Homo sapiens: one gene and its partners. The protein of the gene in region 1 purifies or fractionates together with the protein of each later gene. This does not show direct contact. Each region holds a gene or a part of one and is shown in the gene's direction. Other genes may lie near its edges. The genes, in order: LECT2, MCCC1, VWA5B2, CSPG4, ITIH2, KIAA0232 and DICER1.

The links.
Region 2: the proteins of LECT2 (region 1) and MCCC1 purify together in Homo sapiens (co-immunoprecipitation; one large-scale study listed by IntAct). This does not show direct contact.
Region 3: the proteins of LECT2 (region 1) and VWA5B2 purify together in Homo sapiens (co-immunoprecipitation; one large-scale study listed by IntAct). This does not show direct contact.
Region 4: the proteins of LECT2 (region 1) and CSPG4 purify together in Homo sapiens (affinity purification with mass spectrometry; one large-scale study listed by BioGRID and IntAct). This does not show direct contact.
Region 5: the proteins of LECT2 (region 1) and ITIH2 purify together in Homo sapiens (affinity purification with mass spectrometry; one large-scale study listed by BioGRID and IntAct). This does not show direct contact.
Region 6: the proteins of LECT2 (region 1) and KIAA0232 purify together in Homo sapiens (affinity purification with mass spectrometry; one large-scale study listed by BioGRID and IntAct). This does not show direct contact.
Region 7: the proteins of LECT2 (region 1) and DICER1 purify together in Homo sapiens (affinity purification with mass spectrometry; one large-scale study listed by BioGRID and IntAct). This does not show direct contact.

Annotation. Positions count from the first base shown.
Region 1 is NC_000005.10:135,946,112-135,949,622, reverse strand, and holds the end of LECT2 (leukocyte cell-derived chemotaxin-2 precursor), read left to right. Parts: intron 1-2,125; coding exon 2,126-2,292; 3' UTR 2,293-2,719; downstream 2,720-3,511. UniProt on the Homo sapiens protein: Has a neutrophil chemotactic activity. Also a positive regulator of chondrocyte proliferation. Does not show metalloendopeptidase activity.
Region 2 is NC_000003.12:183,071,422-183,075,642, reverse strand, and holds part of MCCC1 (methylcrotonoyl-CoA carboxylase subunit alpha, mitochondrial isoform 1 precursor), read left to right. Parts: intron 1-3,155; coding exon 3,156-3,277; intron 3,278-4,221.
Region 3 is NC_000003.12:184,227,942-184,232,867, forward strand, and holds the start of VWA5B2 (von Willebrand factor A domain-containing protein 5B2), read left to right. Parts: upstream 1-1,643; 5' UTR 1,644-1,772; exon of another isoform or gene 1,773-1,855; intron 1,856-2,411; exon of another isoform or gene 2,412-2,438; 5' UTR 2,439-2,587; coding exon 2,588-2,726; intron 2,727-2,805; coding exon 2,806-2,976; intron 2,977-4,926.
Region 4 is NC_000015.10:75,702,714-75,706,934, reverse strand, and holds part of CSPG4 (chondroitin sulfate proteoglycan 4 precursor), read left to right. Parts: intron 1-4,221. UniProt on the Homo sapiens protein: Proteoglycan playing a role in cell proliferation and migration which stimulates endothelial cells motility during microvascular morphogenesis. May also inhibit neurite outgrowth and growth cone collapse during axon regeneration.
Region 5 is NC_000010.11:7,730,095-7,734,315, forward strand, and holds part of ITIH2 (inter-alpha-trypsin inhibitor heavy chain H2 precursor), read left to right. Parts: coding exon 1-39; intron 40-1,716; coding exon 1,717-1,902; intron 1,903-2,243; coding exon 2,244-2,383; intron 2,384-4,221. UniProt on the Homo sapiens protein: May act as a carrier of hyaluronan in serum or as a binding protein between hyaluronan and other matrix protein, including those on cell surfaces in tissues to regulate the localization, synthesis and degradation of hyaluronan which are essential to cells undergoing biological processes.
Region 6 is NC_000004.12:6,876,727-6,880,947, forward strand, and holds part of KIAA0232 (uncharacterized protein KIAA0232), read left to right. Parts: coding exon 1-31; intron 32-4,060; coding exon 4,061-4,221.
Region 7 is NC_000014.9:95,147,350-95,151,570, reverse strand, and holds part of DICER1 (endoribonuclease Dicer), read left to right. Parts: intron 1-4,221. UniProt on the Homo sapiens protein: Double-stranded RNA (dsRNA) endoribonuclease playing a central role in short dsRNA-mediated post-transcriptional gene silencing.

The DNA of each region.
Region 1 (3,511 bases):
CCCCAAAGGGACCTGCAACGGTTTAGCAGGATGACAGCACATTAGGGAAGAAATAATTAGGCTCTTCAGAGATTACTGGACACTTGCTCAAAACTGACACTAATTCCTGGAGATCTAAAAGGCCACTGTGGTTCACCAGTCAGACTAGGGGCTTAGAGTCAGGTGGTAAATATAGCTTTTCACTAGGGTCCATCTTACAGTGAGCCCAGTGCATCCTCCAATCTACCAAGAGGTTATTTCCCCAGTTCCAGAATGCATAATTGGAATTGACTTTCTTCTTCTTTCAGACTGCCTTGGCAATTCTTGGTTATTTGCATTTCCAAATAAATTACAGAATCTGTTTGCTAATTTCCACCAAAAATCCTGCTGGGGCTTTGACTGAATCTGCAGTAAATATACAGATCAAATTGAGAACTAATATTTTTAAAGTAGTGAGTCCTCCAATCAATGAACATATTATGTCCTCCACTTACTTAGGTCTTCCTTCACTGTTATATTAATGGTTGTTGTAGTTTTCAGTGTAGAGGTCTTGCACATCTTTTGTTTAATATTTATTCGTAAAACCTACCTGATGGAGTTTTAGCTCTTCTACAGCAGAACTATCCAATAGAAATATAACAGAAGTCATATATATAATTTTAAATTTTCGGCTGGGCACGGTGGCTCGTGCCTGTAATCCCAGCACTTTGGGAGGCCGAGGTGGATGGATCACGAGGTCAGGAGATCGAGACCATCCTGGCTAACACGGTGAAACCCCGTCTCTACTAAAAAATACAAAAAATTAGCCAGATGTGGTGGCGGGCGCCTGTAGTCCCTGCTACTCAGGAGGCTGAGGCAGGAGAATGGCGTGAACCCGGGAGGCGGAGCCTGCAGTGAGCCGAGATCGCGCCACTGCACTCCAGCCTGGGTGACACAGCAAGACTCCGTCTCAAAAAAATAATAATAATAATTATTATTATTATTATTTTAAATTTTCTAGTAGCCATGTTGAAGTAAAAAAACATGGTATTTTAGTATTTTATTTAACTCAATATTTTCAAAGTATTATATCAATATGTAATACAAAAATTATTGAGATATTTTACATTTTTAAATACTAAGTCTTCAAAATCCACTGTGTATTTTACCATTAAAGCACATCTCAATTCATATTAACTACCTTTCAAGTGCTGCATAACCACATGTGGCTAGTGGCTACCATATTGGACAGCATAATTTTACAGCCTTATTTTTATGCTCACTTGACCGGTTTGCAGTGCCACTAGTGTATCAAAGTCTCCTATTATTGGTGGGTTTCTATCTATGTTTCCTGGCATCTCTTGTAGTGTCTGCTTTATATAGATGACTTGTGCTATTTAGTGCATGGATAGTTGTAACTGTTATATCTTCATTGTGACTTGTGGCATTTACCCTCTTACATTATCTTCGTCTTGTTTCAATGCCTTTTGGCCTGATTTCCACTCTTCTGGTAACAGGACAATAGCCCTTGCTTTCTTATTGCTTGGCAAATCTTTGTCCATGTGCTTGGCAAATCTTTGTCCAGCTCTTCACTTTCAGCCTTTTCAATCGCTGTGTTTTATTCCATACAGCATTCAATTGGGGTTTGCTTTTCAACCCAATGGGACATCTTTTAATAGGCAAGATAAGGCCATTCACATTTATAGACATGACTCCTGTATTTGTACCCAACACCATTTTATTGTATAATTATTATATTGTACTCTATTTCTCTACTTGGGTCTTTGCCTTTTTAATTCTTTTGATATTTAGCAAAGTTTGTATTTTTGTTCCAGTTATTTCTATTTTTCTTTATCTCTAAAGTCCAATCATTCTATCAGAATATGTTTTGGAGTTGACATTGTTCAGGGCTCACCTTTTCTAACTAGCTAGTATTTTCCTGCTATTATTCTTCAATGCCTTTATTAGCGTTTCATTTGAATCTATTCTTCCTTTGGCATCTTGTAATTTAGTCTTCCTTTTTAATATCATTTTGTCATTTTCATCTATTCCTCTCCTGAGTTCATTCAACATTCTTTTTTTTATTTTTTGTCCATTTGTTATTTTTTTAATTTCAGATTCAAGATTACTGAAGCCCAGATAAATAATTATACTTATTTTCTTTTAGGTTTTTGTGTCAAAATGTTCTACATTAAGCCAATTAAGTATAAAGGTCCTATTAAGAAGGGAGAAAAACTTGGAACTCTATTGCCCTTGCAGAAAGTTTATCCTGGCATACAATCGCATGTGCACATTGAAAACTGTGACTCGAGTGACCCTACTGCATACCTGTAAATCGAAGGCCAATGGTCAGATCTTCAAAATAAAAAGTCATCTTAAAAACCTGGATGCATACCCTTCTCTTCAAGAAATTTGTGTTCACAAAGGAAAAATGCATGAAGGGATGGATACCCCATTTTCCATGACATGATTATTACACATTGCATGCCTGTATCAAAACATCTCACGTACCTCATAAACAAATACACCTATGTACCCACAAAAATTTTTTAATTAAAAAAAGGAAATTTGAGTTTAAATAGAAACATGATAAATGCAAGAAAGAAAACATTTTGATTTTAACTCATTGTCACTCTGATGTTCATGTGAACTGGTTGCTTCGGGCTCTTTGATCTGTCACCTATGGAATCTGAGTGGTTTTATTTTTTAGATTTCTCAGTCCCGAAGATCTAAGATAAATAAACAAGAGAACTTACGCTGGGCCAGGCTGCATTTTTGACACCTCTAAAACTAGCAACCTTTCTGCTTGAAAATAAGAAAAAGCCTGAAAGTGTTTCTATGGTACAAGAACAGTGAGTGGTTTATAATGCTAGATTTAGTATACATTTAATACATATTCAATGAATAAGTTGAGTTTAGGTAGTAGACTCTCAGCAATATCCTTAGGTTTATCATATTGGTTGGAGAGAGAGCTGCTTTCATGGATAATAAAGGATTTGCTGGTATTTCCATCCACTCACCCACATGATTATGAATGATGGCAGTCCAAGAAAACATATCCCAAGAAAACAGTGAGGCTGCACTACAGGAAGGACTAGAGTGAGAATGAGGCCTACCTTTATCTGAAGTGTCTCATGGAATTGGGCCTGTCAACTTCATCTAGCCATATGCATATTACAGCTACTTATTTCTACACATCATTGTATTATATCTATGTTATTCTGTCTTAGTTATATTGACAACAGGTACTATGAGGAAACAAGACCATACAAATGTCCAAAGGACCAGAAATAATTCTGGCTCCTTAGAGTTTAGCCAGTTGGTAAGAAATGAATACATTGAACTAATCATTCTGGAAACTTCATGAATTTCTGCTTAAATTTGTTCGGAATGCAGAAAATGCCAGCAGAATGATTATATTCTTATGTGTAGATTGTTAGAGGAAAACATAATTAACTGAAGTTTATTGTTAGAGAAATGGCTGCATTTGTGTATCAGGGCATATGTATGAGAATGTTCATGATATCACTATTTTTCATAGCAAAACCTTCAG
Region 2 (4,221 bases), on another chromosome or scaffold:
CGTGAACCTGGGAAGCAGAGGTTGCAATGAGATGAGATCATGCCACTGCACTCTAGCCTGGGTGACAGAGCAAGACTCTGTCTCAAAAAAAAAAAAAGTGGGCAAAGGACATGAACAGGCACTTCTCAAAAGAAGACATACATGTGACCAACAAACATGAAAAAAAGCTCAATATCACTGATCATTAGAGAAACGCAAATCAAAACCACAATGAGACACCATCTCACACCAGTCAGAATGGCTATTACTAAGAAGTCAAAAAAATAACAGATGTCAGGAGGTTGTGGAGAAAAGGGAACGCTTATACACTGTTGGTAGGAGTGTAAATTAGTTCAACCATTGTGGAAAGCAGCAGGGTGATTCCTCAAAGAGCTAAAAGCAAAACTGCCATTCAACCCAGCAATCCCATTACTGGTTGATACCCAGAGGAATATAAATTATTCTACCATAAAGACACATGTGCATGTATGTTCATTGCATCATTCACAATAGCAAAGTCATTGAATCAGCCTAAATGCCCATCAGTGACAGATTGGATGAAGAAAAGGTGGTACATATACACCACGGAATACTATGCAGCCATAATAAAGCATAAGATCACATCTTTTGCGGGAACATGGATGGAGCTGGAAGCTATTATCCTTAGCAAACTCCCACAGGAACAGAAAACCAAATACTGCATGTTCTCACTTAGAAGTGGGAGCTGAATGATAAGAACTTAAGAACACAAAGAAGGAAACAAAAGACACTGGGGTCTACCTGAGTGGGGAAGGTGGGAGGGAGAGGAGCAGAAAAGATAACTATTGAATACTGGGCTTAATACCTGGGTGACGAACTCTGTACAACAAACCCCTGTGACATGTATTCACCTGTGTAATCTTCACATGCACCCCAAACCTAAAATAAAAGTTAATAAAATAAAATTGAACTTTGGTTTAAAAGATATAAAACTCTAAACTGGCTGCAACATATGAGTATCCAGCATTTTATCTGTATCTGGCATTGCATTGTTTCCTGTCACTAGGATGTGGGTTTTTCTATTCGTATGAGTTTCCCAGATATGTGAAGCTTACCCCTTTAATTTTGAAATGTTCTTTGAGTGTAACTATTTTGAAACAGGATTGGCTGAACCTTTGTGTTTTTACATTGTTTTGGTCATAATTATAATACTCGCTCACATTTTAGAAGAACAAATCCCCTCAGGGCTACTGATGTTGGAGAGGGTGTGGCTTCATCACTCATTAAATCATCCAAGTCTTCTCTGCCTTTTGCCTCCTTCTGTTTCTTCCCTTTTTGCTGTCAGCGTGTTTACTTTTAGAAATCTTGCTGTCCTTCAGTTACTGAATTTCCTCTTCTGTGGGCTAAAATCCCAGTAAGTATGTTTGTTAAAATTCTGAGTACACTGGAAGTAACTAGGCTGAAGTCTGAGGGATGCCCTTTTCACTGAAAGTACACGTACAGTTGTCCCCTTTATCCACGGTTTTGCTTTGAGTGGTTTCAGTTACCTGCAGTCTACTATGGTGTGAAAATATTAAATGGAAAATTCCAGAAATCAACAATTGATAAGTTTCAAATTGCACGCCATTCTGAGTCACACAGTGAGATCTTGCACAGTCTGCTTTGTCCCTCCCAGGATGTGAATCGTCCCTTTGTCCAGTGTCTCCACGCTGTCTCCACTCCCCATCTGTTAGTCACTCAGGAGCCATCTAGGTTATCAAATTGACTGTCATGGTACCACCATGCTTGTGTTCAAGTCACCCTTATTTTATTTAAATCATGGCCCCAAAATGCAAGAGCAATGATGGTGGCAATTCACTTATGCTAAAGAGAAGCCATGAAATGCTTCTTTTAAGTGAAAAGGTGAAAATTCTCAAGGAAAGAAAAAAATATGTATGTTGAGGTTTCTTGGTTCTTGGTAAGGACCAAGTTTCTATCTGTGAAATTGTGAAGAAGGAAAAACAAATTCATGTCATTTTCCTGTTGCACCTCAAACTGCAAAACTTATGGCCACAGGGCATGGCAAGTACTTAGTTAAGATGGGAAAGGCATTACATTTGTGATTGGAAGACATGAACAGAAGCGTGGTCAAATTGGTATCAGTCCAGTTCTGTAGTATTCATAGTTTCAGGCATCCACTAGGGATCTTGGATAAGGGGACACTCCTGTAGACTTTAATACATGACTTTCATTTGCTTCTTAGCTTTTTTTCTGGAAAGATGACATTGATGACCTGAAGATAAGTGAGGTATTTATTGAGCTAGTGTTCTGTTTGGGGCTTTTGGATGCCATGATTTCAATTCTAGGCCAGTTTTACACAGAGACAGAATAGACAAATTCCCCTTACCACTCTGAAGCCCTTTACTTCTTGACATTCTACCCTAATTGCAATATTATTTTAAATTTAAGTATATAGAAACTTCTGTACCATATGATCCAGCAATTCCACTTTTGGTATACAGCTAGAAGAATTTAAAGCAGGGACTCAAAACAGATACTTGTATACCAATACTTGTTGTTCACAGCAGCAGTATTCACAATGTGTAGAAATAACACAATGTCCATCAAGAGATTAATGGATAAACAAAATGTGTACAAACTGGATATTATTCAACCTTAAAAACAAATGGAATTTTGATACATGTTACATGAATGAACCTTGAAAACATTATGCTAGGTGAAATAAGCCAAACTCAGACAAATTATTATACGCTTCCACTTACATGAGGTACTTTGGCTAGAGAAATTCATAAACAGAAAGTAAAATCCTGGTTACTAGGGACTAAGGAAAGGGAGGGAATGGAGAATTATGTTTGGAGATTAAAACATCCTGAGGATGGATGGTGATGACAGTTGCCCAACATTGTGAGTGTACTTAATGCCACTGAATTACATACTTGCAAGTAACTAAAATGGTCAGTGTTTTGCTATGTATATATTATCACAATAAAAAGAAATATAGATTCATCTGGTTTAGGTAAGCCTTCAGAGCTTTCATATGAATATTTCAGATATTTCTTTGGAAACAGAGTTTAATAGAGACCATACTATTACCAGTGTAGGGAGAGGCCTCCCAGAGGAAGACAGCTTCACCTGCATTAAGGTGTTGCCAGTTGAGCACTGATGAGTAAATTTTTTATTTTATTTCTCATTTCTAGGCTATCCATCCAGGATGCGGTTTTCTCTCAGAAAACATGGAATTTGCTGAACTTTGTAAGCAAGAAGGAATTATTTTTATAGGCCCTCCTCCATCTGCAATTAGAGACATGGGTATAAAGAGGTATGAGTTTATATCTTTTAAAATATAACTGTATGAAGGTCAGTTGAAATAGTTTGGGCCAGGCATGTGGCTATGCCTGTAATACCAGTGTTTTGGGAGACTGAGGCAGGAGGATAGCTTGAGGCCAGGAATTCAAGACCAGCCTGGGCAACTTAGTGAGACCTTGTCTCTCAAAATTCTTTTTTTTAAATCAGCCAGGCCTGGGCACAGTGGCTCACACCTGTAATCCCAGCACTTTGGGAGGCCAAGGTGGGAGGATCACTTGAGCCCAGAAGTTTAAGACCAGCCTGGGCAACACAGGGAGACCCTGTCTCTACAAAATTTTTTAAAAATTCCAGGCATGGTGGCACGTGCCTGTGGGTCCAGCATCTTGGGAGGCTGAGGTGGGAGGATTGCTTGAGCCCAGGAGATCAAGGCTGCAGTGAGCTGTGATCACACCATCATACTTCAGTCTGGGTGACAGAGTAAGACCCCATCTCAAAAAAAAAAAAAAAAATTCAGCTGGGTATGGTGACACACACCTGTAGTCCCAGCTGCTTAGGAGGCTGAGGCAGAAGGATCACTTGAGCTCAGAAGTTTAAGGCTGTAGTGAAGTATAATTGCACCACTGCACTCTGGCATGGGCAACATTGTGAGACCCTGTCTCTAAAAAAAAAAAAGAAATAGTTTGTTTTACCTATAATATTTTAATTCTACCCTTCTGTTGTCATAGGCATAAGTTATTTATCTGTGACATAGAGAAATTCTATTGAGTTACAGAAAATACTTAATGTTTCTAATCAATATATTAGTATTTTGGGATTAAAAAATAGGGTGAGATGAGCTACCACATGAAATGAGGGAAACTAACTAATAGACATATTAAATTTGTATTATTTTGTCGTCTCAGACTCGATGTTTTCTTTAAAGAGTTCCATTGTAATTTATAGACTGGGCTATATTTA
Region 3 (4,926 bases), on another chromosome or scaffold:
TTGTCCAAGGGCTACATGTAGCTCTTGGTTCATTTGTAGAAGGGGCAGAGCACAAGGTGCTTGTGGAAAGGTGGCCACTGCCTGGACCTTTGTGAGGCCCTCAGGGCCAGGGCTGGTCCTACCTGAGGCCCTGGATCACCTGGAGGGACCATCAGCCCATCCACTGTTTCTCCCTAGGCCTGAAAGAGGGACCCTCGTTCAGGATGAAGCTGAGAACAGACTCAGTAGAGAAAGGGGGAGAGAGGTGAATGGAACCATGACCCAGGTAGTATGGAAAGAGGGCTAGGACCCAGCTGGAGCTCCCTGTGTGTTGGGTACGTGTGACTGTGTCTGTGCTCCCTGTATCATTCCTGTGCATTTCCACCCATGAAATTCCCTGGGAAAAGGTCAAGCTCTCTCCACCATGCTAAGTAGGGTGAGCAAAGGAGATGGTTGGGGTTGAGGGCTCAGATACTCAAGGAGGCAGGGATCCCCCGGGGGGATGATCCCTGGTGATAGTGATTGAAATCAGAAGGAGAGAGTTAATGCGGAGGAGTGAGAACCATGGGCCCGACTCGAAAGCTCACTTCCTACTGGCTGTCCTCCATCCCCAGCTCTCCTCAAGCTCTCTCTGCAGAATCTCAGTATGGCATCTGCCAAAAAGCTTACATGGATGATCCCCAAACATGGTCATCTCCTCTCACTTCCCCAGGGCTCTCAGACTCTTCCTTGGGGGACCTGGGAGAGGTTTTCCGGACCTTCCTACTTTTTGACAGCATAACACTGTCAAGCACATGCAAAGTCTGCCAATAACAAGGGGCCCTCCTGACAAGCAGAGATGTTTTCTCTTCAGGGCTGCGGTGATGGGTGGGGGTCACTGCTATGAGGGGACGGTCTGCAGCCATAAGAAGGCTCTTCAGGCTAGAAGGCTTCACTCCCAAGGCCCGCACAGCTGAAGAGACCAAGGGGTTATAGGCTGAGGGCGCTATTGTGCACACCCTCCCACCCCAGCAGAAGTGGTTGGCACTGCAGCGATGCCAAGGCCGGCTGCTTGGGGGTGGGAGGAGGTCGCTGCAGTGATGAGGAATCCCTGCTTGGAGTGAGTGGTCACTGAAGTGGCTGCATGAACTAAAAGTACCTGCAGGGATGGGGGAGGTTTTCTGCAGTGATGAAGAGCACTTTGCAAAGGAAAGGGGCCAGCTTCTTGGGGGAAGAGTCCTGCGGTGACGGTGATGGGGGGCTGGGGGGTTCGCTGCAGTCAGGAGGGAGGGTCTCTGCAGCGATGGGAAGCAACCCAGGGCAGGGGGTGGGGTGGGCTGGGGAATGGGATGCCGTCGTGGTAATGGGATAGCTGGGGTCGCGGCAGTGTCGGTGGCACTTGCAGGACGCCTGATTCCTGAAGAATGGAAAGGGTGGGGTCTCTGAGGCCTCGGTCCTGCAGTGACGGGGATCCGTGCGGCGGCGGGGACGCGGTCCCTGCACTGCGGTGCCCAGTCTGGCTCGGGCTGCCGCGGCTGGCGCGGAGGCGGTACCGCGCCCGAAGGAGGGGGGAGCGCCAGCCCCGCCGCAGCAGCAGCAGGCGTGGCCAGGGCAGGCTGGAGGGGCGGCCTCTCGGAACGGGGGCGGGACCACCGCCGGCAGGGCCCGCGCCCCTGCCGGGACTCAGAGCCGCTGCAGCCACAGTCACGAACTGGCGGCCGGCAGGTGCCGGGACCGAGGGCCACCCGGAGCGCAGAGGCGGCACCACCCACACGGATCCCGTGGGCACCTAGAACTCCGCGGAGGGCGCGACGGTGAGGCTGAGACTGCCACAGGGAGCGGGGCGATCCCCAGAGCCAGCCCGCGGCATCCCCTGCGCGGGCCGCGGCCACTGCAGGTGCCCCCTCCTCCCACATCAGCTCTGCCGGGGTAGGGAGCGGTAACCTGGCGGCTCCCACGGACTCTCCCTGGCCCGACACCTCTCCCGGGCTTGCCTCCCAAAGACCCCCTCTTTTCGCTTTCCCAGCTCGTTCTTCCCACCCTTAACCCCTCCACTCCGGCCAGCACCCCCGTCGGATGAGGCACCAGGGAGAGAAAGACCAAGGCCCTTTCGGCGCCCCATCCACCCTGCCCCCGCGATCCCTCGCAGGGCCGGGGGCCTCCGGGGGGATTCGGGCCCTTTAAACCTCCGCCTTCCCGGAGCATCTTCCATCTCCACCCGCGCCGCTTCCGACAGCTGGCGGCCGCGGGGGGCCCCGGGGGGCCGGCAGGTACGGGGGTGGCTGCGAGGTTGGGAGTGGGCGGTGGAACAGCTGTGACCGCCCCCACCCCCGGGGGAGCCGCGGCGGGACTGCTGGGCGCCGAAGCGCGCGTTAATCATTAACCCTCCGCGGCCCGGCTGCCCAGGTAACGCGTGAGGATGCCCTCCTCGCCACCACGCCTGCCGCCCCCTTATCTCCCCCGCCACCTGTCGCCCTCAGGAGCTCCCGCTCGGCCTCGCGCCCCGGCAGGCCCCGTCCGGGTGCTGGAGTGAGACTCTCGCGCTGGCCTCTGGAGCGCGGGGTGGGCGTCCCGTCACCCTGCGCCCAGCTTCCCCGGCCCGTTCCCGCAGGGCCGGCCTCCCGGCGCCATGCCCGGCCTGTACTGCCCCTCCAGCTGGACGCCGCTGCCGCTCACGGACTCCTGGGTCCGGGCCTGCGCCAACGGCCCCTGCCTCAGCGTGCGGGCCCGGCTCACCTACCGCAACCCGCAGCCGCAGCCGGTGGACGGTGAGGCCCGGGTGGGGCGCGGGCGCGGCGGGGGGTGCGCCGGGCAGGGTCCGACGCCGCCTCCCGCCGCCCTCCCCAGGCGTGTTCGTGTACCCGCTGGCCGAGGCCGAGGTGGTGTCCGGCTTCGAGGCCGAGGCCGCCGGACGGCGCGTCTCCTTCCAGCTGCAGAGCCGGCGCCGCTCGCAGGCCGCCTGCTGCCGCGCTCTGGGCCCGGGGCTGGGGACCCCGACGCCCCGCCGCTGCGCGCAGGGTGAGTTCCGCGCGCCCGCACCCGCGCTCCTGAAAGCCGGGCGCAGCTCAGGCTCCCGCATCCGCTCGGCCTCCGCCCGTCCCCCGCCTTCCTCCGGGCACTGCCTTGTGCATTCATTGGCTCATCCTGGTATTTAGCAGTCGTGGGCTGGGCACCTGACCTGCGCCAGGTGCTGGGAGAACATGGCCCGGAGGTTCACAGCCTGGGAGACAGACACAGCAGGCAGCACAGGGCTTGCGGGGGCGCCAGCAACCCTTACAGCCCAGGAGACCGGTCTCTCTAGGGGGCTGCAAAGGGAGCCTTCTCCCCTGGTGGTCCCCTCCGGCCCCTTACTATTTTAGGCTGCACACCTCAATCCGGCCCCGCGTGGGCCAGTGAATCAAGTGTAGACTCCTGTGCCTAGCAGCCAAGGCCCTCGCTCTCACCCCATTCCATCCCTCTCCCAGCGACCCCATACACCAGGTACCGCTGCCGCTGGCCACACTGACTGACAGGTCCTTTCCCAACTCTCTGCTCTGTCTTTCCATCTTCTATTGAGCAAATTCCTACTTGTCCTTTAAGATCCACTAAACGTCATTCCTAGGGAAACCCTCCCTGACTCTCCCACAAATAGCTGCACTGTTTCCTGGCTCCCCAGCCTTTTGTGCCCCCTCGTTATGGCACTTACAGGGGGAGTCATTGTCACAGATCTGCCTGTCTGTCTCCCCGCTGGAGCATCTCCAAATCCCAGCACCTCACACAGAACCTGGCACTATGAGGCCCAGCGAGTGCCCGGGGAAGGGACAGAAGCCCAGCCCTGTGCTGTGTGCTGTGCTTGCACCTGGTTCTTTCATTGATTCATTCATACATGGCTTTGATTCCTGCCCAGGGGATTTGCAATCCAGGTAAGAAGAAGAGGAACAGAATCCAGTGGTGTTGAGAGCTGGCATAAGCCCAGCACGTTAGGGGCTTGTGGTTAGAGGCTAGAGTGAGCTCTGGGCTGAGGCCCCAGGAATGTTCCAGAAGGAGGTAGAGCCAGCATTTGACTGCAAGAAAGGGTAGGACTCAGTTAAGTGGAAGGTAGGGGCAACAGTATAAGCAAATGCTTATAAGTAGGTTACAGTGGGTAATGACAATAAAATATCTCATGTTTATAGTGATTTACAGTTTACAATCGCTAGTATCACCTCATTTGAATCCCAAGTAGTGGGTAATGCAGGCTTCTTCCTGTTATGGGGGATGGAAGGGGGATAATCCCCCTTCCTCCTGTTATGGGGGATGAAAGTCATAGCAGGGGTCACTGACTTATATGTTGGGTGCTTTGCATACATTGCCTCATTTGTTCCTCACCACAATCACAGAGTTATTATGATCCCCACTTTATGGATGAGGAAACAGGCTCCTCAGAACAAGAGAGCTGCCAAAGGACTCAATTAGAGGTCACCGAGCTGATATTTAAAACTTGATGCTGTGCTGTCTCCACTGTGTCGGTTGGCTGGGATGGAAGCCCCTTTCTTTCTTTCCTTCCATCTTTTTCTTCCCTTCAGTTATTCAGCAAGTATTTATTGAAAGGATGAACAATTGGTCATTGTGAGGAAGTGAGGTACAGTAGGGCTGTGAACGTGGGCTGGGGCCAGACCACGTCGGTGGTGTACACAGCTGCCACTGTACATGGCTGGTCATTATTCCTTTAGCAGCCCCACCAGTCCCCAAACAAACCTAGGAGCTAAATAAAACAGTGTGTGCAGTGTGCAAATGGAGCTTTATGTCCTCCAGCCTGCTTCCTGCTTCTCTATTCCTCCTGCCCGGGAGGAGTAGAGAATTCTGGAGCCACCTTAGTGGGCAATGGGGGAGCTCCTGATGGTTCAGGAGCAGGAAATTTATGAGCAGAGTGGGGTCCCAGGCCACAGGGAGATGTCTATCCACAAGGGATGGTGGCCAAGGGTTGAATGGAAAGAGGCAGGCAGGGGG
Region 4 (4,221 bases), on another chromosome or scaffold:
TCCACTGGTGGTATCCTATTGGCACTCAAAAAATTTTGGATTTAGGGGCATTTGGATTTTGAATTTTCAGATTAGGGATGCTCAACTGTGCTGTGCTATGTCCTTCTCTCCCCAAATATATCATCCTCCCTGGTCAAGGTGATCCTGTGTCCCACGGACTGGCTGATCAGATAGAACTAGGCCATCAGATAATAATCCACAACCGCTGGCACCTTTCCACTTCTACTCAAGCTGCTCCATGCAACAGGCCTTCCCTTTTCCCCCATCCTCCAAGGCTCAGCTCCAGTATCGCCACCCCCAGGAGCCTGTTCTAACCACAGATTGCTCTGAGACCCATGACCTGGATGGCCCCTCTCCTGGGGCCCTGCCCTCCATCTCTGTGGGGTTACAGGCCTTTCTTCCCCTACCCTCACCTGGCCTCTGTCCCCGGTTCATGACCTTCTTCAGCCTGACACCCAGTAAGTGCACATGCGTGTGTGTGCACACACACACTCACACACACACATACACATTCACACACACATACATACACTCACACATACACACTCACACACACGCAGTATTGCTCAGTAGGCAAGGAGAGTGTCCTGCCCCGAGCCAGCAGCCCCAGGGAAAACCCCCAAAATCAGGACACAGTGCCTCGTTCCCCCGCCAGGGCAGGCCCTCTGGCCTGGGCCAGTCCACTCTCTGGGGAGACAGAGGGGGCTGGGGAGAGGAGACGAACTTCCGTTCCCACCTAAGAGCAGCCCCTTCCCCCACCCACATTTCAGGAAGGGGCAGCTATAAATACCAGTGGGACCAGGACACTGATTCCCACGACACCCGCTTCTCCCTGCCCCTTCCCTGTGCACAGTTGCTGGGGCCAGACCAGCTCTCCTGCAGCTAGAGTCCAGCCAGGCAGGCCTGAGGCCTAGCCACACACACACAGAGACACAGACATACGCACACAGGCACACACAGACATAGATACACACAGACATACAGACACAGACACATGCACACAGACACACATACGCACACACACACGCACACAGACATATACACACAGGCACAGACACACACATATGCACACAGACACATACAGACACAGATACACACACACACTTTTACTTCCCACCCTGGTCAAGGAGGAGCAAATCACCCTTTTTGGGAGTCTGCGAGCAGCTGAGAGGGAGCCCCTCCCCTGCCCCTCAGCCCTGACCCAGGCCCCATCTCTCCCTCCTCTGAGTCCTGAGCTGTGGGAACCCACACAGGGAAGCAGGAGGCCAGGCACATGGTGGTGAAACACGGCATTAGAGAGCTCAGGTTGAATTCCAGCCCTGACGCTCTATGCATGACCTTGGGCAAGTGACTCTGTCTTTCTGAGCCTCAGTTTTCTCCTCTCTAAAATGGGGATAAATAATTCCAACCTCTTACGTGTTGTAAGGATTAAGCAAGACACTTTGCCTGGAATCAATGCTCGGTGGACATCTGCTCCTGAAGCTGCAGTCACTCTGCTATTAGCATCTTCTTCCCAGGGTGGAGTGGCCCGGCAACATGGGGACTTCTGCTTAGGAGTGTTTAAGGAAGATTCCGAGGCAAAGGCCTAGAGGAGGTGGCCCCGTGAGTCTGTGTGGGACTAAGTGACATGGAAAAGGAGAGGTGGGCTCTGGAGAGGGTATCAGCCAGCGGCTGCCTGCCAGCCCAGGACCCTTCAGAAGGTGGGAGGGGGTGGGGGTCTGCATCTCTGTGGCTAACTGGGCTGAGGCCCACACCCCTCTCTCAGTGCTAGAAGAAGTGGGGACAGCCCCTGCCTGGCCCTCCCCAGGGCCTGTTTCTCCCAAGCCTAACAGCCCCTAGGATGGGGCTCACTGGGCCGGGGCACAGCAGGAACCCCCTGTCCCCAGAGCAGGTGAGTGAGGAGAAGAGAATGAGCAGGCCCCAAGACCTTTTATGGGACGGGGACCCTAGAAGCCTGTCTTTTCCCTGCTCTCTACCAACCCCTCGCGAGTCCCTCTCTGGAGGTGGGGGCTGGAGGCCAGGGCCCAGGGACGTGGGACAGCTCACCTGCCAGAGTCACCATGGGGCTGTTACCACCACTCATGATATAAGCAGTGGTGGCTGCATCACGAGGAGCAGAAATCCGGACTGAGGGAGGGGACAGCCCTCTCCGCTCTGGGCTGCTAGGACCCCTCAGTGGTATGGGTGTATGTGAGCTCAGAGTAGGGGGAGGTGTGGGGAGGTGACTGAGGTGACTGCAGAGTGGGGTGCACAGCTCGGGGCAGGGACACTGGAGGGACCCCGGACAAGGGCAGGCCTGTGCCTGAGCCCTCAGGGCAAGATCCCATTGTGCAGGCCCCCACTGCCTTCACCCACGTAGAGGTGACTCTTCTCCACAGACCCCTGGACAGGGCCCGGCCAGGCCCCCCACCCACATGTTTTAATGGAATCCAGGTGGCTGCCCCTGGCCAAGGTTCCATCTCTGGGCATCTGGGGCCCGTGTGCTTCTGGCCACCCATCTGGAGCCTGGCTGAGCCCCTCCAGGGGTGGGTACTCAGACGGGGGCTGTCCCTCCAACCGTGGACAGCCCTGGGGCCAGCGAGATATTGTAGAGGCCTGAGCCAGCTGGCTGATGGTGCCACAGCCCTTGGGCTACCTGGCCCTGCTATGTGGCCTTGGGGAGACCCCTGGCCCTATCTGGGCCTCTGGGTGGAATCTTCAGTCTCCTAGGTCAGCTCTAAATTCTGAGCTTGAGCCTCTTGGGAACAGGACAGGGGCCTCTGCCTCTATCTAGAGAGAGCCAGCTGCTTGTCCTGGGCCAAGCAGCAAGGCAGGCTAGGCCTGGAATGGGGCTGAGAAGCAGCCCAGCCTGCCAGGACTCCCTGGCATTGGAAAGCCACTTTCCTAAGTTGGCATGGAGCCCTGGGGCTCCCCCCGGGATGAGAGCAGCGGCTCCTCTCCACCCCCGGCTCCCATCTTCCACCCCCTGGCCCCAGCCCCGCCCTGCCAAAAATAAACCCAGACCACCCCATCTTGTACCAGCCAGACCCACCCAGCCCCTCCAGAGCCAATTGAGTCACCACTCAGAGCTGCTCCTTTTTTAACTGTCTGAGTCACTGCTTGTGGCTCCATGACACATGCCCCAGGCTACGGTTACCCCACAGCCCCTACAAGCGCAGCCAAGGGAGGGGTCTGCGTAGAGGCTGGCAGCAGGTGTGAGTCCAGGCCATAGCCTTAGCTTGTGAGCCCTCCAGGCCTAGGGAACTCACTCCATAACAAGCCAGAGACCAGACCTGTCCCTCAAGGTCCCGGCCGTGCCCAAGACAGCCCTTGGGGATCTTGGTGACAAGGTCAATCTGGGCTCTGCCCCACCGCATTGCGTTGCCTCCAACAGGCCTGGGCCTTCCCCGTGGAGACTGCCGGGAACGGAGGGTCTCCAGCCCCTAGACCCTGGAGGCTGGGGGTGGGCGAGGCCACAGAGACGCCTGCTTCCTCCCTCCTCACCGGCTCCACCCGGACTCTGACCACGCTGCCTGGAGCACCATGAAGACTCTATGGGACGGAAGCCACACTTCAGTCTCCCCTCACGGCTTCTGTCTGCCCCTGCGCAGGGTCACCCGGGCTGCAGAGCACCCCCGATCTCTCAGTCCATCCCCCCATCCCGCTCTCTCCATCTCTCTGTCCTTTCCCACCCCTGGCTGTGGTTCCTCCATCTCTTTCTGTCTGTCTTTCCTACCCTGTCTCTCTGTCTGTCTGCCCATCTCTCCAGTCCTGCTCTGTTCTCCTTCCCTTCTCCTTTACCGGGTTCCACGGCAGTCAGAAGTGCTCCCTGCCGCCAGCACCCCACCCGTCCCCAGGGCCCTCTCTGCCTTCTCAGTAGACATAACAGACCCTCACCTCCTCCCATTCCCACAAGGGACTCTGGGCCCCAGGGACCAATCCTGAGAAATGTTCCGCTCCCCTCACCAGGTCCTCCCGTGCCCCAAAGTGCAGGCTACATCCTGTCCCAGGGAGTGTCAGGATCCCACAGGCACTTCCTTGGGGGTTGACAAAGGCGGGCAGGGGGGCCTGGGAATGGCCCCACCTCCCAGTCCATGCTAGAGCAGGGGCCTGTAAGCCTCAAACCCCATCCGTCTTCTGTCTGTGGCTGTGGCCTCCGGCTATAAATAGGGGCTCGGATTCTATTTTCTTTAAAAACAAGCACCAGACTCTGTCACCACAGGCCCAGAAAAGCAGTCTCTG
Region 5 (4,221 bases), on another chromosome or scaffold:
AGGATTTATGGAAACCAGGACACGTCTTCCCAGCTTAAGGTAACATTTTCTTCTGTTCTTTTTTTATTCTTCACTGGAAATCATTTAACTACCCATATCTGATGCAGGTATGATGCATAACTGAACTTAACTCAAAATGGTCATGATCTCAGCCATATTTGGTTGCAAGGATCAGGGAAGTGCCCAGTTCCTTTCTCACATGTTTCCCCCCACCCTCATATTTCTGCAGTAACAGTGAGGTATGAGGCAGATGGGTGTTGGGAACAGCTGTCCTACCCCCTGAACAAAAAGGCCTTCTGAGCGTCATCAAAGCTCCTTGTAGCTCTCCTGCCCCACCAGCAATTGGTCTTCTTATCATCATGGCCAACCGTTTTCTCTTTAACGTGCATTGGCATCTTGGTATCAATTTTTCACAGTGTAAATTTTCTTAAGTATTAAGATACAGGCTGAGTGTGGTGGCTCATGCCTGTAATCCCAGCTCTTTGGAGGCCAAGGTGGGAGGATCACTCGAGCCCAGAGGTTTAAGGCCAGCTTGGGCAACATAGTGAGATCCATCTGTTCAACAGATAATTTTTTTAATTAAAATACATATATTGAAAAGACACAAACTACTTGTTTGTTTTGATTAAATAGATGAGAAAATGATGTAGGGAAAGAACATGTTTTTCCCTGCTCTTTGTCAGTACCAGGCATCGTATTTAAATTTGGGAACAAGTAAGAGATAAGATTCTGATTTGGGGACTATTAACCCAGCTGACTTTTGTAAAAATTTAATTATTACTATTATTTTTTGAGACAGAGTCTTGCTTTGTCACCCAGGCTGGGTGACAAGTACGTTCAATGGCAGTGCAATGGTGTGGTGCAGTGGTTCAGGAGTGCAGTGCTGCGATCTCGGCTCACTGCAACCTCCGCCTCCTGGGTTCAGGCGATTCTCGCACCTCAGTCTCCTGAGTAGCCAGGATTACAGGCATGTGCCACCAGGCCCGGCTAATTTTTGTATTTTTAGAAGAGACAGGGTTTACCATGTTGGCGAGGCTGGTCTCAAACTCCTGAACTCAGGTGATCCGCCTGCCTTGGCCTCCCAAAGTGCTGGGATTACAGGTCAAGCCACCATGCCCGACCTCCTGCTGACTTTTATCATAAGTTTGTCCAAGAGTTTTTCACGCTGACCGTAACAGAAAGGGAAAAAAATGCCAGGCTCTTAAACCAAAGGTAATGTTCTCAACAAGTCTTTGTCTTCTCTCTGTTTTTAATCTGATAATTACGAGCATTTTCCCTTGTCCCAAACGTCCTGTGTGAATAAATTAAGAGGTATCTGCTGATTCTTTGAAGAATCTCAGAGTAAAATGTTTTAGATCAGCTGGGCGTAATCCCTGTAATCCCAGCACTTTGGGAGGCCCAGGCAGGCAGATCACAAGACAGAAGTTCAAGACCAGCCTGGCCAAGATGGTGAAAACCCGTCTCTACTAAAAATACAAAAATTAGCCGGGCTTGGTGGCGGGTGCCCGTAATCCCAGCTACTTGTGGGGCTGAGGTGGGATAATTGCTTGAACCCAGGAGCCGGAGATTGCAGTGAGACGAGATCCCACCACTGCACTCCAGCCTGGGCAACAGAGTGAGACATCGTCTCAAAATAAATAAATAAATAAAATAAAATGCTTTAGATCTACAAAGCAGTAGGAACATAATTTCTCTCTCTCTCTCTGTGAATTGTAGAAATTCTACAACCAGGTCTCCACTCCATTGCTCCGGAATGTTCAGTTCAACTATCCCCATACATCAGTCACGGACGTCACTCAAAACAATTTCCATAACTACTTTGGAGGCTCAGAGATTGTGGTGGCAGGAAAATTTGACCCTGCTAAATTGGATCAAATAGAGAGCGTTATCACGGCGACTTCGGTACTTCCACTTATCCATTTATTCTATCTACTAACTGACCCCCTAGATACAGTCCCTCTTGAATGTCAGCTCTGCCTGCCTGGAATCATGGGTGTAGAACAGAAGCAATCAGTGATGGAGAAGGCATGAGAATATCTCTGCCATCTTCCCAGCTATTCCATAAATCCTGACCTTTTCACCCAAGCCCAATCCCAAGCACAGGAATGCATTTCCTTCCTCCGTAGGCTTTGCCTTCCATTTCTTTTTTATTCCCATTCATTCGCAGCAGGTACTAAAAATGTGAATCAATGAACTATAATTCTGTTACCCAGTGTCTCTCAACTGAACCTTCCATCATCTAGGCTAACACGCAGTTAGTCTTGGAGACCCTGGCCCAGATGGACGACTTGCAGGATTTTCTATCGAAAGACAAGCATGCAGATCCCGATTTCACCAGGAAACTGTGGGCCTATCTAACCATCAACCAACTGCTAGCTGAACGGTAAGAAGAGAAGAGTACCCACACCACGAGATCTGCAAAACTGAAATGTCCACCGTGAATATATGAAGTCATACACAAAAAGAGTTTGGAAGCAAGAAAGACAGCACATTAGCACAGGCTTGGATTATTACCTTCCACTAGTTCTGAACACTTCAGAGAAAGCTGGGTTCACTCTTTTTCTTCTTTATTGAGGTATAACATACAGTAAAGTATGCAAAATGCATTAATTTTTTAATTTTTATTTTATTTATTTATTTTTATTTTTTTTGAGGCAGAGTCTCGCTCTGTCTCCCAGGCTGGAGTGCAGTGACGCCATCTCAGCTCACTGCAAGCTCCGCCTCCCGGGTTCACACCATTCTCCTGCCTCAGCCTCCTGAGTAGCTGGGATTACTGGTGCCCACCACCACGCCCAGCTAATTTTTTTGTATTTTAGTAGAGACGGGGTTTCACCATGTTAGCCAGGATGGTCTCGGTCTCCTGACCTCGTGATCCACCCGAGTGGGCCTCCCAAAGTACTGGGATTACAGGCATGAGCCACCGCACCCGGCCAAAATGCATTAATTTTAAGTGCACCATTCAATGGATTTTTATATCTATCATCCGTGTAATCACCACCCAGATCCAGATGTAGGTTCCCTTGTTCTCCCTCAACACCCACCCCCCTCCTCCACTGTAACCACTCTTTCAATGTCTGTGATCATCAGTTTTGCCTGATCCTAAATTTCACATAATCATGCAATCTGTATTCCTCTGTTCCTGGCTTCTTTCACTCAATATGATGTTGGTGAGATTCATCCATGTTGCTTCATGTATCAGGCATGTATTTGCATTTACTGTCTCGATCTCCTGACCTCATGACCCGCCTGCCTCGGCTTCCTAATGTGCTGGGATTACAGGCATGAGCCACTGCACCCAGCCCTGCATTTACTCTTGAAAATGGCTTCTTGTCCAAAGAGAAATTGATGATTATTAACGATTATGGTGTTCCCTAAGGAAGGGCTCCCCTATGCTCATCTATGTCCCCTCTGGTTGCTTCATGTATCAGTAATTTATTTGCATTTACTCTTGAAAACGGCTTCTTGTCCAAAGAGAATTTAATGATTATGTGATTATGATGTTCCCTAAGGAAGGGCTCCCCCATGCTCATCCATGGCCCCTCTGACTTCTCAGCTGAGCTGCATCTCAACTCTCCAACATGAAAACTATATCCCCAGAGCAATGGATGGTTGACCACCTGCATCAAAATTACACAGAGGTGTTTGATAAAAGTTCCCATTCCCAAGCCTCATTCTGTCTATAAGACAGGATTCTCAGGAAGGTGGAACAGGGTCTAAATGAGGCTGGGAAAATGAAATGCAGTTGTATGACTGAACTCATAGAGAAAATCCCTGATGTCAATAAGGTTAGAAGAAATACGCAAGGCTGTAAACTATGACTGTGAAGTAAACGAGAAATAGCTCCCTCTCTGACAGAAGCACACTAGATGTATTTACAGGTATATAGCAAATTGTTGCAGAAGTTAAATATTGATTTTAAAACAATTCCTATAAAAAGATCAGCAGTTGCTAAAGGTTGGGGAGTGGGAGATACGTGAGTAGGTGGAGCACAGAGCATTTTTATGGCAGTGAAAATACCCTATATGATACTCCAATGGTGGACACCTGTCATTATGCATTTAACCAAACCCATAGAATGTACAACACCAAGGGTCAGCCACGTTAACTGTGGACTCTGCGTGATAATGATGTGTCAGCTTCTTCCATTGTAACAAATGCACCACTCTGATGTGGGATGGATGTTGATAGTGGGGAAGGCCGTGTATATGGGGGACCGTGTGT
Region 6 (4,221 bases), on another chromosome or scaffold:
TAATGAAGAGCGCCTGTTAGATTTTAATAGGGTAAGTGGACTGTCCTCCTCCTCGTCATTAACTTACAAACAGCCACCACCTCCAGTTGTCACTGTAGTCAAAAACCTGGGAGTCATGTGAGTGGACCCCACCTCTCCCAGGAACCAGCCAGGCCTGTGGGTGCAGACTTCCTGTTCTCTGGCCTTTGTTCTGAGTCTGCATTCTCCCCCGCTTCCAAACCCCCTTGACTGTTGACTGCCAGTGCTTCCTGAAGAATCCCCAGCTCTCTCCCCAGTCTTGGCTCTACACTACTGCCCGAGGGCATTGCATTACAAATGCAGAGCTGACCCTGTTGCTCCTTGGGTGGGCACACTTTTCATCTTTTTTTTTTTTGTTTACCTAATAAGTGGGAGACCTAGCCTTGTCCTCTTTGAAAGTGCACCCTGAGGCAGCCTTGCCAGTGTGCTTGTTGCCGCTGTCCCGGCTTCTGCAGAACGATCCCGCCCTTTCCGTGTCCTCCTGCACTCTGTGCACGACTCTTCTTGCTGTAGCCAGAGCATGTACTTGCGTTCCGTTTCTGCATGTCTGCCTCTTCCACAAGCCTGTGGGCACCACGAAGGCGGGAGCGGGGCCTCCGCCTGGTTTAGTCTCGTCTTAGACCTTCCCCGGTTAAGAGGCAGGCAGGCAAATGAACCTAAGGAAAATTCTTTTTATTTGGTGTGAATTGTCAGTGTATTAGGGTTCTCCAGAGGGACAGAACTAATGGAATAGGTATATATATACACAAAGGGGAGTTTATTAAGTATTAACTCACACGATCACAAGGTCCCACAATAGGCCATCTGCAAGCTGAGGAGGAAGGAGAGCCAGTCCCAGTCCCAGTCCCAAAACTGAAGAACTTGGAGTCCGATGTTCGAGGGCAGGAAGCATCCAGCATGGGAGAAGATGTAGGCTGGGAGGCTAGGCCAGTCTAGTCTTTTCACATTTTTCTGCCTGCTTTATATTCTAGCCACGCTGGCAGCTGACTAGATGGTGCCCACCCAGATGAAGGGTGGGTCTGCCTTTCCCAGCCCACTGGATCAAATGTTAATCTCCTTTGGCAACACCCCCACAGACACACCCAGGATCAGTACTTTGCATCCTTTAATCCAATCAAGTTGACACTCAGTATTAACCATAACAAGTCCACCCCTTGTCAATTTGAACCCATACACATCTCCTGAAATTATATGTAATCTTCAAATAAAGACAATAAGGTCATAATTATACCTAACATAATACAGCTATGCTTCATACAACCGGAAAAGCACCAATCCCAAACCCAAGTACTATTACATAGAGTTAACAATACTTAAATGCTGATATGAAGTCAATAAATCTTATGTCAGCCGGGCGCTGTGGCTCACGCTTGTAATCCCATCATTTTGGAAGGCCAAGGTGGGCAGATCACCTGAGGTCAGGAGTTCAAGACCAGCCTGGCCAACATGGCGAAACCCCATCTCTACTAAAAATACAAAAATTAGCCGGGCGTGATGGTGCACCCCTGTAATCCCAGCTACTTGGGAGGCTGAAGCTGGAGAATTGCTTGAACCCAGGAGGTAGAGATTGCAGTGAGCTGAGATCGCACCACTGCACTCCAGCCTGGGTGACAGAGCAAAACTCCATCATTCATTCATACATACATACATACATACATACATACATACATAAATATATACATACATAAATCTTGTGTCACATGATAAAGGACAAAAAATAAAATGAGATTTTCTTAGTACAAGTGTATACATGCACAAACGTGTTTTTAACGAAGGAGGAAATACTCCTCAAGACAATTACAGTCCTGGTTTCTGCACCTGGTCACATGGTCGTAGCTGGTATTGATGACTACCTTCTTCTACTACCCATTCTGTATTCCCTTTGCCTTCAGCAAGCACCTCAGCAGGTTGTGGTTTTTTCCCGGTGGAGTGACCTAAACCTTCATTCCTAAAGAGTCTGAGCCATTTGTATCCTGTCTGGACTGGGCTGTTGTAGTTTCCCGTTAACTTGAATCACACGGCATGTGATCAAGTTGACACTCAGTATTAACCATCTGTCAGTGTCCATTCAAGTCCTGTGAGAACTGTCTGCCCAAGCACCTGTAGCATCATCGTCCACGTCCTGCTGCCCACTGACCTGTCCGGCTCCACACATGAAGGCAGATGTTTGAGGCCCCCACCAGCTCTCTCCTCAGTGACTAGTTCACATCATCCCTCCAGCCTCAAACCCCAAACTGAGACATATTCCCCAGTCCTCTCTCTCATCTTCCACACACAGTCTGCCTGCCAGTCCTGACCGTTCCCCGCTGTCAGCCACTTCGCATCTCCCACTTCTCCTCCTCTCCATCATTACCACTTTGTTCAAGCCACTGTCCCTGCTCCTGAACAGCTGCCATGGTCTTTTCATTGTCCTTCCTGCTTTCGTCATCCTTTCCAGCCTTCTCTCCACACAGCAGACAGAATGACCTCACGAGCAGTATCTTGTTCAGTCCTCACAACGACCCTGTGAGGTAGGTACTGTTGTCATGCCTGTTCTGCAAAATAGGAAAGTGAAGCACAAAAACATCAGGCGCCGTGTATCCGAGGCCAGAGAGCCACAGCTTCAGTGTGGACCTGAACTCTGAACCTCAGCAGTCTGCCTCTAGGACCCATACTGCTAACCATGATGTCACTTTGCTGTTGCATTTGAGACAGATCCAAACTCCCCGCCACGCCTCTACAGCCCTGTATGTTTTGCCCCCGTCTGCCTTTGACCTCATCTGTCTCTGCTCTCCCCTTACTCTGTGTGGCTTTTCTGTGCTTCTGCCTCAGGGGTTCTCAACCAGGGGCAATGCTGCCATTTGGAAATGAGGTGGGAGTGCTGCTAGTTACTATGGCAGGGTGAGGGGAGCTTTGTAATGACTGTGACTGAGGAGGGGCCACCACTGCATCTCATGTCCTGGGGTCCAGAGATGCTGACCATCTGGTGTAGGGGAGACAGTCCGACACCACAGAGTGTTGGCACCTCTGCATGGCTGGCTTCTCAGCTGAGCGGGCCTCTTCTCCAAAGAACTCCCTTCCCAACACACCCATCTGCAGTGCCCCCCCTCACCATCTGTACTGTGTCACTGCAAACTCCCTTCCCAACACACAGGTCTGCAGTGTCCCCTCACCATCTGTACTGTGTCACTGCAAACTCCCTTCCCAACACACCCGTCTGCAGTGCCCCCTCACCATCTGTACTGTGTCACTGCAAACTCCCTTCCCAACACACAGGTCTGTAGTGTCGCCTCACCATCTGTACTGTGTCACTGCAAACTCCCTTCCCAACACAGAGGTCTGCAGTGTCCCCTCACCATCTGTACTGTGTCACTGCAAACTCCCTTCCCAACACACAGGTCTGTAGTGTCGCCTCACCATCTGTACTGTGTCACTGCAAACTCCCTTCCCAACACAGAGGTCTGCAGTGTCCCCTCACCATCTGTACTGTGTCACTGCAAACTCCCTTCCCAACACAGAGGTCTGCAGTGTCCCCTCACCATCTGTACTGTGTCACTGCAAACTCCCTTCCCAACACACAGGTCTGTAGTGTCGCCTCACCATCTGTACTGTGTCACTGCAAACTCCCTTCCCAACACACCCGTCTGCAGTGCCCCCCTCACCATCGGTACTGTGTCACTGCAACTGGCACATGTTGGTTTGCTCGTTCATCTCCCCAGCGAGCCTGGCATGCGCCTTCCACTGCTGGAGTCCCTGTGCCCAGTAAAGTTCCTGGTGCATAGCAGGTACTCAAAGACTTTGAAAATGAAATAATTCTTTATCCTACCCTAACATGGCTAACATTTTGTCCAAGTGACTGAACATGTGGAATTAGGATTTTGGATCCTTCATGGATCAGAGAAGAGAGGCGGTTTTGCTCTGAAACAGTAAAACTCTGCATGTTTGTAACTCCACAGGAAAACACTGATGATTTATTATTTCTTCTTTGTATATAGATAGAGTATCTCACCCTTTTGGGGAAAAAAAAGTCTTTTTGATGTGTTGAAAATTGTTTTAATCTTAGGTGTCTTCTGTTTATGAAGCAAGATGTACAGGAGAGAGAGATTCTGGAGCAAAGTCAGATGGCTTCCGCGGAAAGATGTGCTCCAGCGCCAGCTCCACCTCGGAAGAGACAGGCTCAGAAGGCGGAGGCGAGTGGGTGGGCCCTAGTGAAGAGGAGCTCTT
Region 7 (4,221 bases), on another chromosome or scaffold:
CGTCTCTTGAGTCTCAGCTTCCTTGTCTATAAACTGTCGTAGTGGTGTTTGCCTCTTGAGGTTTTGAGAAAAAAAAGGAGTTTCTTAAACTCTCATGGTACATAACTAGCATTTGATAAAATTAATGTAATATTTTTCTTTTAAATACGTGTATTAGAGAAAATTTTAACATGCAATAGTCTTAATGTGATTAGATTATATTGTGAGCCCCCAAATTATCAATATTGAAATGTATGGTCTAGTAATATAATGGAGGATGAAGGAAAAGAGGGCTTGAGAACAATATTTTACAGACAAGTTTTCGAGGAGGATTATCTATACTGGTTCAGCTATCTTAGTTGGTCTCTGTAGTAGTGATACCAAATGTAACAGTGCCTTAAACGTCTCTTAACTTTCCCTAAATAACACATTCTTCATCTGCTATGCATGAATTAACACATCATCCTTGAAATCATACTTCAATTCAGTGTATAAAGCCAAGTGTTTTGTAAAATAAACCTCAAGTTAGGTTTTATGTTTCCTTATGATTAGATTCAGGTTTCAGCTGGGCACAGTGGCTCACTCCTGTAATCTCAGCACTTTAGGAGGCCAAGGCAGGAGGATCTCTAGAACCTAAGAGTTTGAGGTAGCAGTGAGCTATAATTGTGCCACTGCACTCCAGTCTGGGCAACAGAGCGAGACTCTGTTCCCCTCTTTCCCCCGGCAAAAATAGATTCAAGTTTTGTACTTTCAGTAGGAAAACTACATTAGGTATGTGTTGTCAGTTTGTCCTAATACTGGTGATCTTAGCTTTGTCACTTGGATTAAAGGGGTATCTATCTGGTTTTTCCACTGAATAAAAATACTAGTTTTCATTTGTAATTAGTAGGTAATCTGCAGAAAAGCTTTCAGGCTATGTAAATATTCTTTAGTAACCTTCACCCAATGGTTTTAGCATCCATTAATGATCCTTGCTTCAATCACTAATGTGATGGTTAAAAATGGTGACTTTTCTGTCATTCCTTCTACATTTATTAGTTGACATTCAGTAGAGTTTCGCCTGAATTTTAAACCTAACAAAATACGATTTCTTTTTTGTTGTTGTTAATGCTGAGTCTTGCTCTGTCTCTCAGGCTGGGGTGCAGTGGCGTGATCTTAGCTTACTGCAACCTCTGGCTCCTGGGTTCAAGCGATTCTCCTGTGTCAGCCTCCTGAGTAGCTGGGACTACAGGTGCAAGCCACTATATTGAGCTAATTTTTGTATTTTTTAAGTGGAGACGGGGTTTCACCATGTTAGCCAAGCTGGTCTCGAACTCCTGACCTCAAGTGATTCACCTGTCTCTGCCTCCCAAAGTGCTGGGATTGCAGGCATGAGCCACCGTGCCCGGCCTACAAAATACAGTTTGTAAAATGAGAAACTAAGTTGAGAAATAAGACTGTCTTGAGTTGGGTTTTCCCAGTTGCACCTGTAACTTTAAGAACTTTAAAATTGTTTCTGAAACATCTTCAAGGTTGGAGTCAGATTAGTTTGCATTAATATGGAAGAGAATTTTGTAGTGGTTGGAAGTTAACTGAGAAAACTAGGATGGGTATAGTCAGATGATACCAAAATTATCATTGCACTAACTGATACCTCTCTAGCTTTGACAGTTTCTAGTTAGCCTCGAATTATTCTTTTGGACTTGGGTGCCAAGATCGAGGATGTTAAGCTTGTTGAAATAATTTGGGTTGTTTAAAGTCTTTTAATTTAAAAGTGTCTAATTTGAGTTTTATATTTGACCTATAAAAAGCTGCTTTAATTCAATAGTTAAGATCAATAAAGCTTATTCTCAACATCGAATTAATTAATAAAAAATTATTCATGGATATTTACTTTCCTACATTCCAAACTACCTAGTCATTACAAATTTACAGTAACGTGAAAATCAAACAAATCATGAACTATGTAATATGAATGTGAGTATAGTATGAGATTATCTTTCAAAGATCTTAATACTCTTGAGGGAGATGGCAATAACAGCTAATATATGGGGCAGTAATATAATGAAGCCCGTGATGATTTGGGTGTTGTAGCTAGCCCATGTGTGCTAAATGAGAGGGGAGGGGACTAAAGTGATAGAGGTTTTTAGGGAAAGTTGTGGGGTGGGGTTCGTGAGAGGTGGCGAACTCTGTTGGTACACACTTGTTTTGGTGTTACGGGAAAGGCAGATAACATGAGATGTTGCGCAGAAGCTATGATGATGTAGTGCGTCACACTCTTGCCTGGACCTTTTAATATATTTGCTTTCCTGTCTCAATAAACATCCATCTTAACTCAGTAGTCTCTTATGTTCATTTTGTCTCTGGATTGACCTCCCTTTAGTATTTAAGTATTCATGTTATATATCTTAAAACAGCTTGACAAAGAGAAAATTGTGGCTCCTTTTTCCCAATGGATGCTCTTTCTTGGTGTAAAGGTAGAGGGTAGTCGTGAATTGAATAAAATTCTAGCACTCGTTGCACAGTGTTAAGAGTAAAGTATGTGCCTGTAGTCTCAGCTGCTCAGGAGGCTGAGATGGCAGGATCACTTGAGCCCAGGAGTTCAAGGCTGTAATGTGCTCTGATGGTGCCTGTAAATAGACAGAGTGAGACCCTGTCTCCAAATAAAAAATAAAAAAAAAGAGTAAAGTACAGAAACTTGGAATCAAATATGAACCTTAAAACTCACCTTGAAAGCTAGTGATGTGTTAAGTATTTATGTCTCTTGAAACAAAACTGTAGGACAAATGTCATTATAGGTAACTTGAAGGGGAGGGGTGGGTATCTGTGCTGTTTTGATGTGTTGAAATGTCATCTTTCTGAGAAGTACTCCAAGAAGTAAGCGGACCTTTGGCTTGCAGCCTGGAGACACTTCTTATATGGAGATCTTTGATGGGTGGAATTTGTTAAGATGGTATTTGACCTGTGTTCCACTTCAATTTTGGACCAATCTAATTTTAGGCATGATTATATTGAAATCTAAACATAACATATTTATGTTAGAGATTTAGAGAAACCCAGAAATTTATTTGGTTCAGATACAGTAATGCATGAAAAGAAGGCTAATGAATTTGTGGTTTAAATTGTAGGTACTATGATACTGTAAAATATATATTTGGTCTGTCCTCTACCCTATTCTTAGGCATACAAGGCTTGAAATCCTTAGAATCTCCAAAGTGATGTGTTTTTGTATGCTAATGATCGACTGGTGGCCGGTAGCTCCTGGTAGCTTCAAAATGGGGGCTGGTTACTGGGAAGACTAAGGCATGATTAGAGGTTTGGACTCAGACCCACCCTCCAACCTCTGGGGAGGGAAGAGGGGCTGAAGGTTAATCATGCCCAGGTAATGAGTCTTCATAAAAACCCTGAAGGACAGAGTTTGGAAAGCTTCTGGATAGTTGAACACATGGAGGTTCCTGGAGGGCAGTTTGCTCTGGGAGGGCTTGGAAGCTCTATACCCCTTCTCCATACCTAACCCTGTGCATGTCTTCATCTGGATCTTTGTAATATCCTTTACCTAATTAATTTACTTATTTTTATTGAGATGGACTCTCGCTGTGTTGACCAGGCCGGTCTCGAACTGCTGGCCTCAAGCGATCCTCCCATCTTGGCCTTCCAAAGTGCTAGGATTACAGGCGTGTGCCACTGCACCCAGCCTGTAATATCCTTTATAATAAACTGGTAAACATAAGTAAGTTTTTCCCCAAGGACTGTGAGCTGGTCTAGCAAGTTAAATCCCAGGAGGGCGTTGTGGGAACCCCAGTTAACTGATTGGTCGGGAGCACGGGCAAAAAATAACCTGAGGTTTGCAATTGACACGGAAGGGTGGGGGAGGTCTTGAGGACTGGAGCCCTCAACCTGTGGGATCTGATGCTATCTCCAGGTAGATAATGTTGGAATTCAGTCATTAATAGAAGACACCCAGCTGGTGTCCGCTGCAGAATTGATGGCTTGCTTGTTGTTGGGGAGAAACCCCACACATTTGGTCACAGAAATTTTATGTGGTGTGTGAGAACAAAGGAAAAACAGTTTGTGTGTGTTTTTTCCCACTCAGATATTCAGGTAAATGTTACCACATTTTGTGCCTTAACGGGGGAGGTTTTTACTCATTAATTCATTCATTCTAGAGACAGGGTCTTACTCTGGAGTGCAGTGGTGTGATCATGGCTCACTGCAGCCCCCCAGGCTCAGGTGATTCTTCCGCCTCAGCCTCCTGAGGAGTTG